4 linked regions of the Homo sapiens genome follow. The protein of the gene in region 2 interacts with the protein of the main gene of each other region in a pairwise test. Each region holds a gene or a part of one and is shown on either strand. Other genes may lie near its edges.

Evidence for each region. Proteins that work in one complex are often made in the same cells at the same time.
Region 1: the proteins of UPF2 (region 2) and RSRC2 interact in a two-hybrid assay, tested with the Homo sapiens proteins (one large-scale study listed by BioGRID).
Region 3: the proteins of UPF2 (region 2) and SERBP1 interact in a two-hybrid assay, tested with the Homo sapiens proteins (one large-scale study listed by BioGRID).
Region 4: the proteins of UPF2 (region 2) and CYBA interact in a two-hybrid assay, tested with the Homo sapiens proteins (one large-scale study listed by BioGRID).

Annotation. Positions count from the first base shown.
Region 1 is NC_000012.12:122,516,937-122,520,436, forward strand, and holds part of RSRC2 (arginine/serine-rich coiled-coil protein 2), read right to left. Parts: intron 2,116-3,500; coding exon of another isoform or gene 2,094-2,115; coding exon 1,903-2,093; intron 495-1,902; coding exon 291-494; intron 1-290.
Region 2 is NC_000010.11:11,924,310-11,927,809, reverse strand, and holds part of UPF2 (regulator of nonsense transcripts 2), read left to right. Parts: intron 1-3,500. UniProt on the Homo sapiens protein: Involved in nonsense-mediated decay (NMD) of mRNAs containing premature stop codons by associating with the nuclear exon junction complex (EJC).
Region 3 is NC_000001.11:67,407,310-67,410,356, forward strand, and holds the end of SERBP1 (SERPINE1 mRNA-binding protein 1), read right to left. Parts: 3' UTR 501-3,047; downstream 1-500. UniProt on the Homo sapiens protein: Ribosome-binding protein that promotes ribosome hibernation, a process during which ribosomes are stabilized in an inactive state and preserved from proteasomal degradation.
Region 4 is NC_000016.10:88,642,789-88,645,421, forward strand, and holds the end of CYBA (cytochrome b-245 light chain), read right to left. Parts: coding exon of another isoform or gene 2,378-2,633; exon of another isoform or gene 784-2,377; coding exon 565-783; 3' UTR 501-564; downstream 1-500. UniProt on the Homo sapiens protein: Subunit of NADPH oxidase complexes that is required for the NADPH oxidase activity that generates, in various cell types, superoxide from molecular oxygen utilizing NADPH as an electron donor.

The DNA.
Region 1 (3,500 bases), on a different chromosome or scaffold from region 2:
CTCGCCTCGTTGTGATTACAGGTGTAAACCACGACACCTAGCCAACAACTGCATTTTAATAGGCCTATTCATACCTGCACTTCGCAAGAGATTTATCAATCACGAGAATACCTGTGAATGCTATTCAAGTGGTTAGGTGTGTTCTTCATACGTTAGGTAATGACTAAAATAATTTTACCATAATCTATAAATAGAATTGTGACTCACAATTTTAATACTCTCTTACTGAGGAAGATAAACAGACTCTCTGAGGGTCCTATTAAATTTTATTCAGGATGATGGTCACCTACCGACTCCTACTCCTTGTCCTACTCCTGCTTCTAGTCCTATGCCTGTGTCTTGATCTTGAGCGGGAACGAGACCTGATCCGCCGTTTTCTTTCCCTGCTTCTGGATCTCGATTTCTTCCTCTCTCTGCTTCTGGATCTCGATTTCTTCCGCTCCCTACTCCTGGATCGAGACTTCTTCCGCTCCCTGCTTCTACTACGATGGCGTCTGAAATTAAAGTGCACAAATTTGTAATTACTTAAAAGTTGTGTTGTTTCATTTATACACATCATGAATTAGTTACTTGTAGTAACGCAATAAAGACAAGCAAGTAACTGCACTATATTATTTACAGAAATAAGCGAGATTTTCAAAGGAAATACTAACTGAAAACGAACCCTTCATTTTGTTTGATAATTTGTCCTAGAACATAGTAAACCTATTAACATGTCAAAAGCGTTCAATGCATCCTACCCAAATTTAAGCTTCCGTTTAATACTCTTCCCACAGTAGTTACAAATCTTAATACTTTAGTTTATCTACTAAAAATTTTTGAGTCTGATACCACACACAACCCACAGAATTCTCCAAAAAAAACCCCACCAAAAACCATTCACAAATTTGAGCTGTGATCCAGTTTCTCAAAAATCTTTTTATCTATACTCCAACATTAAAAAAAATCTAGATTGCAGTTTAGCAGCAAACACCAACATCACCATCGATGATGCAAAAGGACTGTTTATCAGCTTAAACCACACAGTTTAACAATATGATTTTTTCAGTGCCAGACAGATTAAGTGGTTAAAAATCTCAGCTGGGCAGAGTGACTCACTCCTGAAATCCCAGCACTTCAGGAGGCCAAGGCCGTCACACTGCTTGAGCCCAGGGATTCGTGAATAGCCTGCACAACATGGCCAAAACCCGTCTCTACAAAAAAATACTAAGAGATTAGCTGGGTGTGGTGGCGCATGTCTGTGGTCTCAGCTGCTTGGGAGGCTTGAGGTCAGATCACTTGAGCCCTGGAGGACAAGAGGCTGCAGTGTGCTGAGAGCACACCACTGCACTCTAGTTAGGGCAACAGAGAGACCATCTCAAAAAAGAAAATCTAGGCTGGGCACGGTGGCTCACACCTGTAATCCCAGCACTTTGGGAGGCCGAGGTAGGTGGATCACCTGAGGTCAGGAGTTCGAGACCAGCCTGGCCAACATGGCGAAACCTCATCTCTACTAAAAATACAAAAACTAGCCAGGCATGGTAGCACATGCCTGTAATCCCAGCTACTTGGGAGGCTGAGAAAGGAGAATCACTTGAACCCAGGAGGCAGAGGTTGCAGTGAGCCGAGATCATGCCACTGCACTCCAGCCTGGGCAACACAGCAAGACTCCGTGTCAAAAAAAAAAAAGGGAAAAGAAATCTAGGCACTTGAGATTTAGTCATCCCTTACACCCCATTCTTGGAAACCATTTTTGCATGATGAGAAAGCAAAGCCCAAAGGCAAAAAACAAACAAAACCACAAACCCAAACAAACGAACAAGAAAAACTCCCTAATTATGATTTTTTTGGGTGTTGCTGGGTCAATGAGAAACTTTATGTAACTTGTTAGAAGGTACTACATTATAATACAACATGACTTACCTTTCACGAGACCTAGATCTTGAGTGACTTCTGCCTCTTGATGACTTTCTTTCTTTGCGTTTGTGCCTGTCCTCACCATTTTCAGATGAATTTAGTCGCTCTCTTCCTTTATCAGAAGAATGTTCTTTGTCATTATGTTCCTCAGACTTATGTTTCTTAGAGGATTTATCTTTGGATTCATGTCTTCTTCCCTGTTTTAAGAAGAAGTTGGTTCTTTCAGGAAAATAGTGCAACAAAGAGAGTTAGTATGGGTATCAGTAGACAAAAATGTTGTGATGCAACATTAGTAACCTTAGGAGTGTGTGGCAAATAAAAAAAAGATCTAGTTTCACATCACCCAAATGTTGCAGATGTAATTACTATTTTTTTTACTATAAACACCCAAAATGTAGTTCCTCCCCAAAATATTTTCAATACAACAGAAACAATGATTTTTAAAGTTGAAATATTGAAAAGCCATTATGCCAGACAAAAGAGGAATCCCTTATGTTTATCTAAAAGAATACAGACCATGTATATACATCAACTTCTAAATCCAGATTACATAATGTTAAGTTTAAGTAAGTAATGGAGATAATGACACAAAAAGTGCACCAGAAACGCATTTCAATTAGGTAGCTAAATATAATTATTACTAAGTACTAATATTTTCTATAATTTCAAATTATTTTACACAGAGATGCAGTGTCCCTTTTACAGTTATACTGCCTGCTACATCCTCTAAAAGACAGCTCTTGATTTTCCTCCCAATGTCTAAACTGTGAAGCAATCACTTTTCATCTTGCAGTATCCCAATAGGCTTAGAGGAGTATTACACTTCATGTACCTAGGGTAGAAATGGCAACTGTATGTTTCAATTTTAAAGAAACCAAACTAGGTATAACAATCCACATGCCATCACACAATACATACTGCCCCCACACTTTAAAAAGACCAAGGCCTTCACATGTGCATTCAGAGACTCAGCTCAAATTAACTGCATGATCAAGTCTCATCCTACCAAATACCAAAGTAGAAGTGCTACATACTACAGTTCCCTACAGGAAGATCTGTCAAATTCATCTTGTAGTGAAAGTTTAAAATCCTAGACATCTCTGAATCACTAAATTTTAATTCTGGAAGGAAACTAAGATCCTCTAACTTAATCCCCTTATTTTATGTATAACTAAGATCTAAAGTTACAAAGCTACATGGGTGAGCTGAACCTTCCCCATGTTTTTCTGATGCCCACGCTACCACTTTTCCACTGTAATAAGACACTACTGTCTCCCAAAAGGCCATAGCATGTTTCTTTCCACTCACGATTAATGTTTCTTAAAAATAAAACTTGGCCAATCATTTTGGAACATGCATGATGATTTATCTGAAAATGATCATAGTACATAATTTATTATTTGCAGAAAAATAAGAGACCTGGAGACACAATTAAATTTTAGTTTCATTGCCAGTTCTCTATAGGAGCTTAGAAAAGAAATTTTCCTTGGTTTTGCTATAACGAGGCAGACTGGAAAAGTCTTAAGTGGTTAAACTTCTAAAGGTTTTAAAGTTTATTTCAAACCAGTTTTTCAAACATAACATTACTATTAATTTAAAAAAAA
Region 2 (3,500 bases):
CTCAGATAACTCTAATCAAATTGTAATGTAGAAAACTGGCTTGTCAAGACAGTTTAGAGATCTGTTCTTTAGCATCTGTTGAGTATAATTTAAAAAAAAAATCCAAGTTGGAAATGACCTGTAAACCCATCTAATTAGGCACAATAAGATATTAGGTTATTTTTAATTATCCAAACTTTATTAAAGTCCTTTAATTAAGCCTGTTTTATTGCTGCTAAAATGTGGACACTAGCTAGGTTAACAGGCAATGAAAAATGTTCATTTCCTGCTTTTGCATTTTCTTAGAGTAGCTTTAAATATATGCCACAGTGTTCTTGATAACATCTATTCCCTCCTGTCTCATCATCAGAGACCAAAACTGTTAGAATATTTGTATTTCGGTTGGTAAAAAGTAATGCGGTTTTTGCCAATAAAAGTAATGGGAAAAACTGCAATTACTTTTGCACCAGCATAATATCTTGATGTTTTCCATCATCTTCACCTGTTCATATTGCAGCCTAACGTCTCTGAATAGCACGTTTTTATTAATCCCTAACCCCCTCACAATTCATGTATCGCAAGTATAGTGTCTTAGTAATTTGTGTAGACTCACTATGGAGTTGGATGACATAAGGGGCATCCAGTAGGATTTGCCTCCCTCCGTGTACACTCATCCAGGACTGCACTGTGGAAGATGGAGTACAAGACAGGGTCTTTACCTGCACGGTTGTGGTCCAGTAGGGAAGCCGAGTATGGGTACTTGAAAGATAATTCCACCCTCTTCATTTGTCTGTTTCAAAAACCTTGGGTGAGAGTCTGTTAAGGACCAGGCAGGAGATATGTAAGCATGTGTGTGCTGTCATCGACGTGAGCATGTGTGTGCTGTCATCGACGTGCGTGTGAACAGAGGTAAGCCTTTCTTAACCTGGTTACCGGTGTTAGTCACTTTGCAGAGTTCCTTCACTTTCTATTTTCCCTTCCTCCCTCCAATTCCTCCTTGGAAGAATCGGCTACACTTGCCCCTTCTTCCTTGCTCCCACTTGGGTGGCTTACCCCTGCCAAGTCACAGCTGGCAGTGGGAGGCATTGCCCACCCCAGTGGCTATGCTAGAAAAGAGGTTCATTATTGACTCCTGTCACCTTCTCAGTCCCTAGGTCTAGGCAGCTTCTGCCATCACTGGCATCCCCACCTGCCATCTCTTGGCCTCATCTCAGCAGCACTTTGCATTGTAGGCCCTCCTTGTTCTCCCAACAGACCCTTCCTTGGCATCTGTGATTCTGCTGGCTTCTGGGTTTTCCCTTCCCGCGATCACTGTGGCTCCTGCTGCTGACACTGCCTCCTTTCTGCGCTTCCCTGCCTAGGGATGTCTGTGTTCCTTGGGCTCAGCCTGGGCCCTCTTCTCCTTCTGCACTCTCAAAGGAGGTGTCATCCCTCCCAGTGGCCTGACTTCCATCCAGGTCTCCAGCCCAGATCTCACATTTTCATTTCTGACTTTCCACCCCACTGTGACTCAGAGATGGAAGACTCGTGCCCCTGCCCCAGACTCCTCTTCCCCAGGGTCTCCAGTGCAGGGAGAGGAAGCGTTGTCTGCCCTCTTGTCCACAAAAGAAAAGGAAGTTGTGTTATTGACAGCTCCTCCTCCCTCAATCCCTAAATGTAGTTCATTAGCAAATCCTCTGCATTCTGCTCCCAAATGGCCCTCACTCTTGCCTTTTCTATTCTCTGCCCATAGCCAAGACCATGGGTCAAGCCACCATCACCTCTTGCCTGGATTGCTGTTGCTGCCTCAGCCTCCTCATCAGCCTCTCCGTCTCAACCTTCAACCCTTTCCAATTCATTCTCCCGCTATAGACCCAGTGTTCTTTCTAAAACACAAATTTGATATCTGTGTGTGCCCTTCTGCTTAAAATCATCCAATGGCTCCTCGTGGCTTGTAGGATAAAAAGTCTAAACTCCTCAACTTGGTTCCCAAGGCCCTGTGGTGCAGGTGGACATACATTACTGGCTTCATCTCCTGCTGTTCTTTCTCCTGCTGCAGCCTAGCTGACCTTTAGTTCTGTGTTCTTTTTGCCTCCTCTGTGTGGAACAGTCTCCAGCTGTTCCCCTGGAGAACTCCTGCTCCTTCGGGTCCTGCCTTGGTGTTCCTGAGTCTGACATAGGTCAGTGCGGATCTGCTGCCATGACTTATGGTATTTCTGCAGACCTTGTCCTCCTTAAGTGCCGCTTAGCTTGTCTCTATTCCCCATGAGATTACAGGCGATGAGGGCTGGGACCAAGTCTCATGTTGTTTCCATTCTGTCTCCTTCACAGCTCTTGGTGCCTGGCACCTAGTAGGTGCTCAGTAAATATTTGGTGAATGGACAAAAGAACTTTTCACAGTCTGTGTTCAGTCACTGAATAAACGTTCTCATTCCAGTTCTGCTCCCTAGCTCTTCCCTCTGTTTTTCTTTTTTGTAAGAGTCCTAGCTTTTGAGCTAGCCACTCAACCTGTTTTAAGATCTTTTCTTAAAATAGCACCTTAAAAAAAGAAAACCTAACTTGTCCATCAGTCTTAAGAATAGCACTCTGTAAAGTATCACGAATGGAATTTTTATAGTCAATGCTCCTAAAGTATAGGTGCGATAAACATGGTAGATGAACAAACATGGAAACATGAGATTTTACCCTTTAGAGGACCAGATGTTCTTTGCCTTTTTTAAAATTTACATTTTAAGGCTGGTTGTGATGGCTCATACCTGTATCCCAGCACTTTGGGGGGCCGAGGAAGGCAGATCACCTGAGGTCAGGAGTTCGAGACCAGCCTGACCAACATGGTGAAACCCCGTCTCTACTAAAATTAGAAAAATTAGCCGGTCATGGTGGCGGGCACCTATAATCCCAGCTACTCGGGAGTCTGAGGCAGGAGAATCACTCGAACCTGGGAGGTGAGGTTGCAGTGAGCCAAGATTGCGCCATTGCACTCCAGCCTGGGCAACAAGAGCGAAACTCTATTAAAAAAAATCAGTTATTAATATTAGTAATGTTATACAGCAGATAAAGGGAAATTTATTTGGAAACTGATTATAAAGTAGTTTAGGTCTAGGAGCAGTGGCTCACGCCTGTAATCTCAGCACTTTGGGAGGTCGAGGTGGAAGGATCGCTTGAGCCCAGGAGGCAGAGACTGCCAGATCACACCACTGCACTCCAGGTTGGGCGACAGAGCCAGACCCTGTCTCAAAAAAAAAAGTAGTTTAAAAAAAAGATTTTTTTTTTTGAGACGACATGTTGCTCTGTTACCCAGGCTGGAGTGCAGTGACACAATCTCAGTTCAGTGCACCCTCCACCTCCTGGGTTCAAGTGATTCTTCTGTTAGCCTCCCGAGTGGCTGGGATTACAGGTATGCAGTCCACCACTCTTGACTAATTTTTGTATTTTTAATAGAGACATGGTTTCGCCATGTTGGCCAGGCTGGTCTTGAACTCCTGACCTCAGGTGATCTGCCTGCCTGGACCTCCCAAAGTGCTGGGATTATAGGTGTCAGC
Region 3 (3,047 bases), on a different chromosome or scaffold from region 2:
GAATCCCCGTCTCTACTAAAAATACAAAAAATTAGCCGGGCGTGGTGGCGGGCGCCTATAATTCTAGCTACTCAGGAGGTTGAGTCAGGAGAATTACTTGAACCCGGGAGGCAGAGGTTGCAGTAAACCGAGATCGCGCCACTGCACTCCAGCCTGGGCAACAGAGTGAGACTCATCTCAAAAACAAACAAACAAAAAACACGAAATTATGAATTTTCAGGGTAAGTACACAAACCAATTGTCTTATCTCTAAACAAAGATATGTGTTTAGTTCACACCAATCATGAAGGCCTAAACATGTCGTCATGTAATGGGAAAAATACAAAACCCACCCACTTTCAGTCCATTTCTTTCCAAAAGAACCCCAGCTGTCGGAGCACTCTGAAAATGTCTAGAAAATGTCTAAACACATGCTTATCTTAGTACTCTGAGTGCAGCTGCCATATGAAGCAACATTTCTTTGTGGGTTACGTGTAAAACAAAGAATTCAATATACAAAGTTCCCAAAATAAAACAAAAATTTACTTGGACGTTATTCATTGGCTAATAGAACATTTTAGTCCCAATCCAACAAAATTTTAGGCAAATGTCAAGAACCAAGTTAACCAAAACCGCTTTAAACAGAATCTTCATTCTAGGTATATAAAAACTGTTTCTTTAAATTAGAGATCTTTTTGGTCCTAAAATCTAGAACTGAATCAGCTACAACTGCAAACAAGGTGATTAGTGCAAAGTAATACAACTGTCCAAAGATAAGCTACTTCCCACTTTCCCTACTCAGTAATACATAAAAATCCTTAATATTAGCCCTTCACTTTCCATGCTTCCACCCAGTAACACCTAAAGCAACTATTTAAGGATTAAGCCACACAAGGTCAGAGTAATTGAGCACCTAGTATGAACCAATTATCTAAATAGATTTCTAAAAGTCCATAATGAATCAGAACTCAGATACAAAGTTACCACCAGGCATCTTTTATATATACTTTCTTGCATATACAAGTCTCAAGAAGAGTAATGTCATACAAGAGCACTAGGAATTGCCACATACTCCCAAATGGGCAGCAAAAGGAACAAACATTACTGATTTAAAACAGTATATACATACTAACTCAAAAAAATAATTCGGTAAATCATTTTCTAACTTGTGTGGGTAACTTTTTCCCTTCCATTTAGAAGTGAACAATTGGCTACCAGTTTAGTACAGAAGTAATCAACAGCACAAAAGCTAAATTCTGTCCAAATGGGAATTCTAAGCTCAAAAAAAAAAAAAAAAAGATGCAATCTCCAGGAGCCATTAATTTCTGCCCCAGCTCAACCTATGGAATTTACCTATATGAAGTGTTCATAATTCTCATCTCATAGAAAAACCTCTTTGCACAACGCAAAGGACTTACACAAAGGGATCTGAGTCACTAAATGTGAAATACTAATCATGGTATTTTTTAACAGATTATACACCCCTTAACAGCTTTCAAAATATATTTTATGTTGCAGGCTACCTATCTAAAAAATAATAAAACATGTTTTACTAACAAGTTTTATCTTGCCCTTACTTTGATTATATAGAGGTGTAAAGTATGCTTTAAAATTACTTCTAATTTCACAGCTTCCTGTTGGGTAGACCACTTAATTTGTACCTAGAACTAAACTTTTATTTTTCAGACAGTGTGTCACCCAGACTGGAGTACAGTGCTATGATCTTGGCTCACTGCAACCCCCACCTCCCGGGTTCAAGTGATTCTTGGGTGTGGTGGTGTACACCTGTAAAATTAGCTGTCTGTGGTGGTGCACACCTGTAATCCCAGCTACTCAGGAGGCTGAGGCAGAATTGCTTGAACCCGGGAGGTGGAGGCTGCAGTGACCTGAGATCATGCCACTGCACTCCAGCCTGGGTGACAGAGCCAGACTGTTTCAAAGAAACAAACTCTTGTAACCCGAGAGTGACAGTTCCGGGGTCAGCAAACATTTCTGTGAAAGGCGGTATCTTATGCTGGGCTGCCTACATTTTTCTGTGGGTTTTTTTTTTTTTTAATCCTATACAAGCCTAAAAACCATTCTTAACTCAGGGACACGGACACACACACACACACACACACACACACACACACCCCCACACACACCAGGTCACAGGCTGAACTTTGCTGACCCCTGGCTTACATACAGCATCTCATTTAAATGGCGCTCATTTCCAGTGTTCATATTTTCATCTGTGGCCAAAATCATGATGGCTTTAGCAATTTATATTCTAACCATTTCCTAAACTTAAGCTTCTCATGTTTAGATTACAACCTTGTTTTCACTATATTCTTGAAATTACCGACTTCCTCAGCCTGAAAGATTTATTTCAATCACTTCACATAACCTCCAAATTTGAACTTAAAAGTCAAGGAAGATGAAGAGGTAATCCCAGGGCACAGCTTAGGCCAAATAACCCAAATTTCTGGGAAGCTGCCACTTACTATTAACTCAACCTGACAATTATCTTGCAAATGATATTGATAAATCATTTAATTACTATGGTCCAGTTCAAATATGTATCATTTTACTGCCTTGTTACCAGTTATGCCATACAAAGCACAGTAAATAATGAAGTTTCTGGGCTTTTCTTAGTTAACCTGAAGATCTCGCTGGTACATGTTCAGACTTGCTAAAACTTATTTACATATTTGTCTCAGTATAATCCAAAACGTCTGGGTTATAATCTATTTTCTAAGTGTTTACTTTAGAAAGTAAAATTGCATGCACCTGAGATCCCTGGAATTTGCTATACCATTGGACTGGAGGTCCACTAATATACCTGAATAATCTTACCTCTAAGGTCAACATCAGTTAGGTTCTAGTAACTTCCTATTTCTCATTCCTTTGAACCTTTTAACACCTGTTGTTTCCTTCCACATGATGGTACTTTCCTAAAGACATGTTAGGTTGGTACAAAACCAATTGCACCAACCTAGTATTTTCGAAATCCAATACACATTTAGGCTTTGTATGCAACTCCCTGTTCTATTTCAGTGCAACCATCTCTGGCAACTAGAAAAATAACA
Region 4 (2,633 bases), on a different chromosome or scaffold from region 2:
GCCCCTGCAACTTGGCCTGAGCGTCCTGGGCAGCTGGGGGGCCCCCCAGCATCAGTGTGGGGGCAAACAAGGCCACATCCGCCACCAGCTTCACCCCAGCTTCTACGGAAAAGAGGCGCAGGGTAGAGGCTCACCACGTGGCTCCGACCCTGTTCCCTTTTCACTTAACGCCAGCGGCCTCCTCTGGAATCCAAGCCCCTTAGGGAGGCGTTAGGTGTGGAGGGCCTGCAGGGCCTGCAGGAGCTGTCAAGGGAGGACTCTGCTGCCTCCTCCAGGCCCGGGAGGACCTTTCTAGGGAGGCACACACCTGGAATCCAGGTACTATATTTCGTGGAATATACGGTACCCGGGATTTCGTGTGCTGCTGAGAAGGAAGGCGATGCTGATGTTAATGAAACTGGAATGCGGCCCGGCTGGCAGGAAACGGGGTGCCTGCCCAGGCCTCGGGAACCATCGCTACCCCAGCCCCGCCCACCGGCCCCAGGCAGAGGCTCACGCGCTCCCGGCTTCGCTGCATTTATTGCAGGTGGGTGCACCTGGCGGGAGGGCAGGTCCGGGGCGAGGTCACACGACCTCGTCGGTCACCGGGATGGGGTTGACCTGGGGACCTCCCGGGGGTCCCCCCGCCGCCACCGCAGCCTCCTCCTCGCTGGGCTTCTTGCGGGCCTCGGCCGGGGGCCGCGGCGGGGGGTTGCTGGGCGGCTGCTTGATGGTGCCTCCGATCTGCGGCCGCTCCCGGGGCTTGGGCTCGATGGGCGTCCACTGCTCGCCACGCACAGCCGCCTGCGGGGCACTGAAGGGTTGAGCCGCGCCCCAGCGCCCGCCCTCCCTCCCTCCCTCCCTCCCCGGAGGCCCACCCCGCTAGGGGCCCTGGGACAGGCTCAAGTCTGAATCCCACGCAGGATGGTGTGACTGCCACTCAGAGAGGTTAAGTGACGCGCCCGAGGCCACACAGCCAGGACCTGGGTCGGCCTGACACCAGCCCAAGCTATTTCTTCATGCCAGGAGTGGGGCCCGAACCCCTGGGCTTCTGGAAGATCCCGTGGTGGACACTCCCAGATGCAAATTCTAGTACTCAAATTCTCCTCTCAAGGTGCCAAGGGCAGGGAAGGCAGGGAGGCAGGCCCGAGGTCCAGCAGGAGGGGTGGCCCAGGAGAGTAGCAGGCCCTGCTCCGTCTGGTGGGCGCCATTCACCCACGCTGGCCGGCAGCCCCCCAAGGGTGCCCAGGCATTTCTGCACATGGGGGTGGTGGGGGGAGAGCTTGAAGACCACGGGATTCCACTGGCTTTTACTAAAAATACAGACTCCTGGGCCCATGCCCGGAGGTTCCACTGCAACAGGTCAAGTGGACCTGGGAGTGTGTGCTTTTCATCTTCTATCCCATAATATCTGGTGGAAAAATATGTCACATCATATACGTCATGAACAGAAAGAGAAACTGGACATGTGTGATCCTACCTGACTCCAAAACGGAAACATTCCATTCTGAAAAGCAAAACTAGAAGGCTGATAGAAGAAAAGGCAGGAACGTGAAGGCAGGACCCAGGGCCAGGGAAAGGTGTTTTCACAAAGCACAGACCATAGAGCAGGTGAACAGGGAAACCTCTGCTCTTCCGTGCAGTGAAGGACTCCACGCGCCAAGTTAACAGACCCTCACCAGAAAGCATGAAGGCATCCCCAGTGTTTAAAGGTTACAAAGGCTAAATAGCTAAAATATATGTGGACTTCCTGCAACTTAAGAAAAAGACAATCAGGCCGGGCGCGGTGGCTCACGCCTGTAATCCCAGCACTTTGGGAGGCCGAGGCGGGCGGATCACAAGGTCAAGGAGATCCAGACCATCCTGGCTAACGCGGTGAAACCCCGTCTCTACTAAAAATACCAAAAATTAGCCAGGCATGGTGGCACGTGCCTGTAGTCCCAGCTACTCGGGAGGCTGAGGCAGGAGAATTGCTTGAACCCAGGAGGCGAAGGTTGCAGTGAGCCGAGATCACGCCACTGCACTCCAGCCTGGGCGATGGCGCGAGACTCCATCTCAAAAAAAAAAGAAGAAAAAGAAAAATACAAAAACCACAATAGAAAAATGGGCAAAGGATTTGAACAGGCAACTCAAGGGAGAAGAAACTCCAACAGCTCAAATCCACAGTCAGAGAAGGGCGAGTCCAAGCTCCACACGGCCAGCTCGTGCTGTGAAACTGGCAAGCGTGGGAGAAAGCCTAGTGCATGGTGGGAGAGATGGGGCCACATGGCTGGTGGTGGGTTGTCTGCTGAGGAGCAGCTGAGCCCGGCAGGGTGAACGGTGCAGAGGCTGATGCCTGACCCAGCAATTCCTCTCTGGGTTTAGCACAAGGAATTCCTCCCGAGGTCTCCAGGAGCCACTAGCTGTGCGTGGCAGCAGGGAGACGGGGGGGATGCGGGTGGCCCCCGGAAAACAAAGCAACAGCCCAGATGAGCACTTGGCAACAGGAAGGGGTTCTAAAGGAGAGTTCTGCCGGTGGCAGGTCAGTGAGGCTTGAAACAGAACTCCACTTCCATACGCGGAAGGCGTACACAGAAAGTGCTGCACCTTTCCCACGCACACACACTAGAAGACGCACAGCAAGGGGAGGGCAGTTGCCTCTGCGGGCAGGAGGG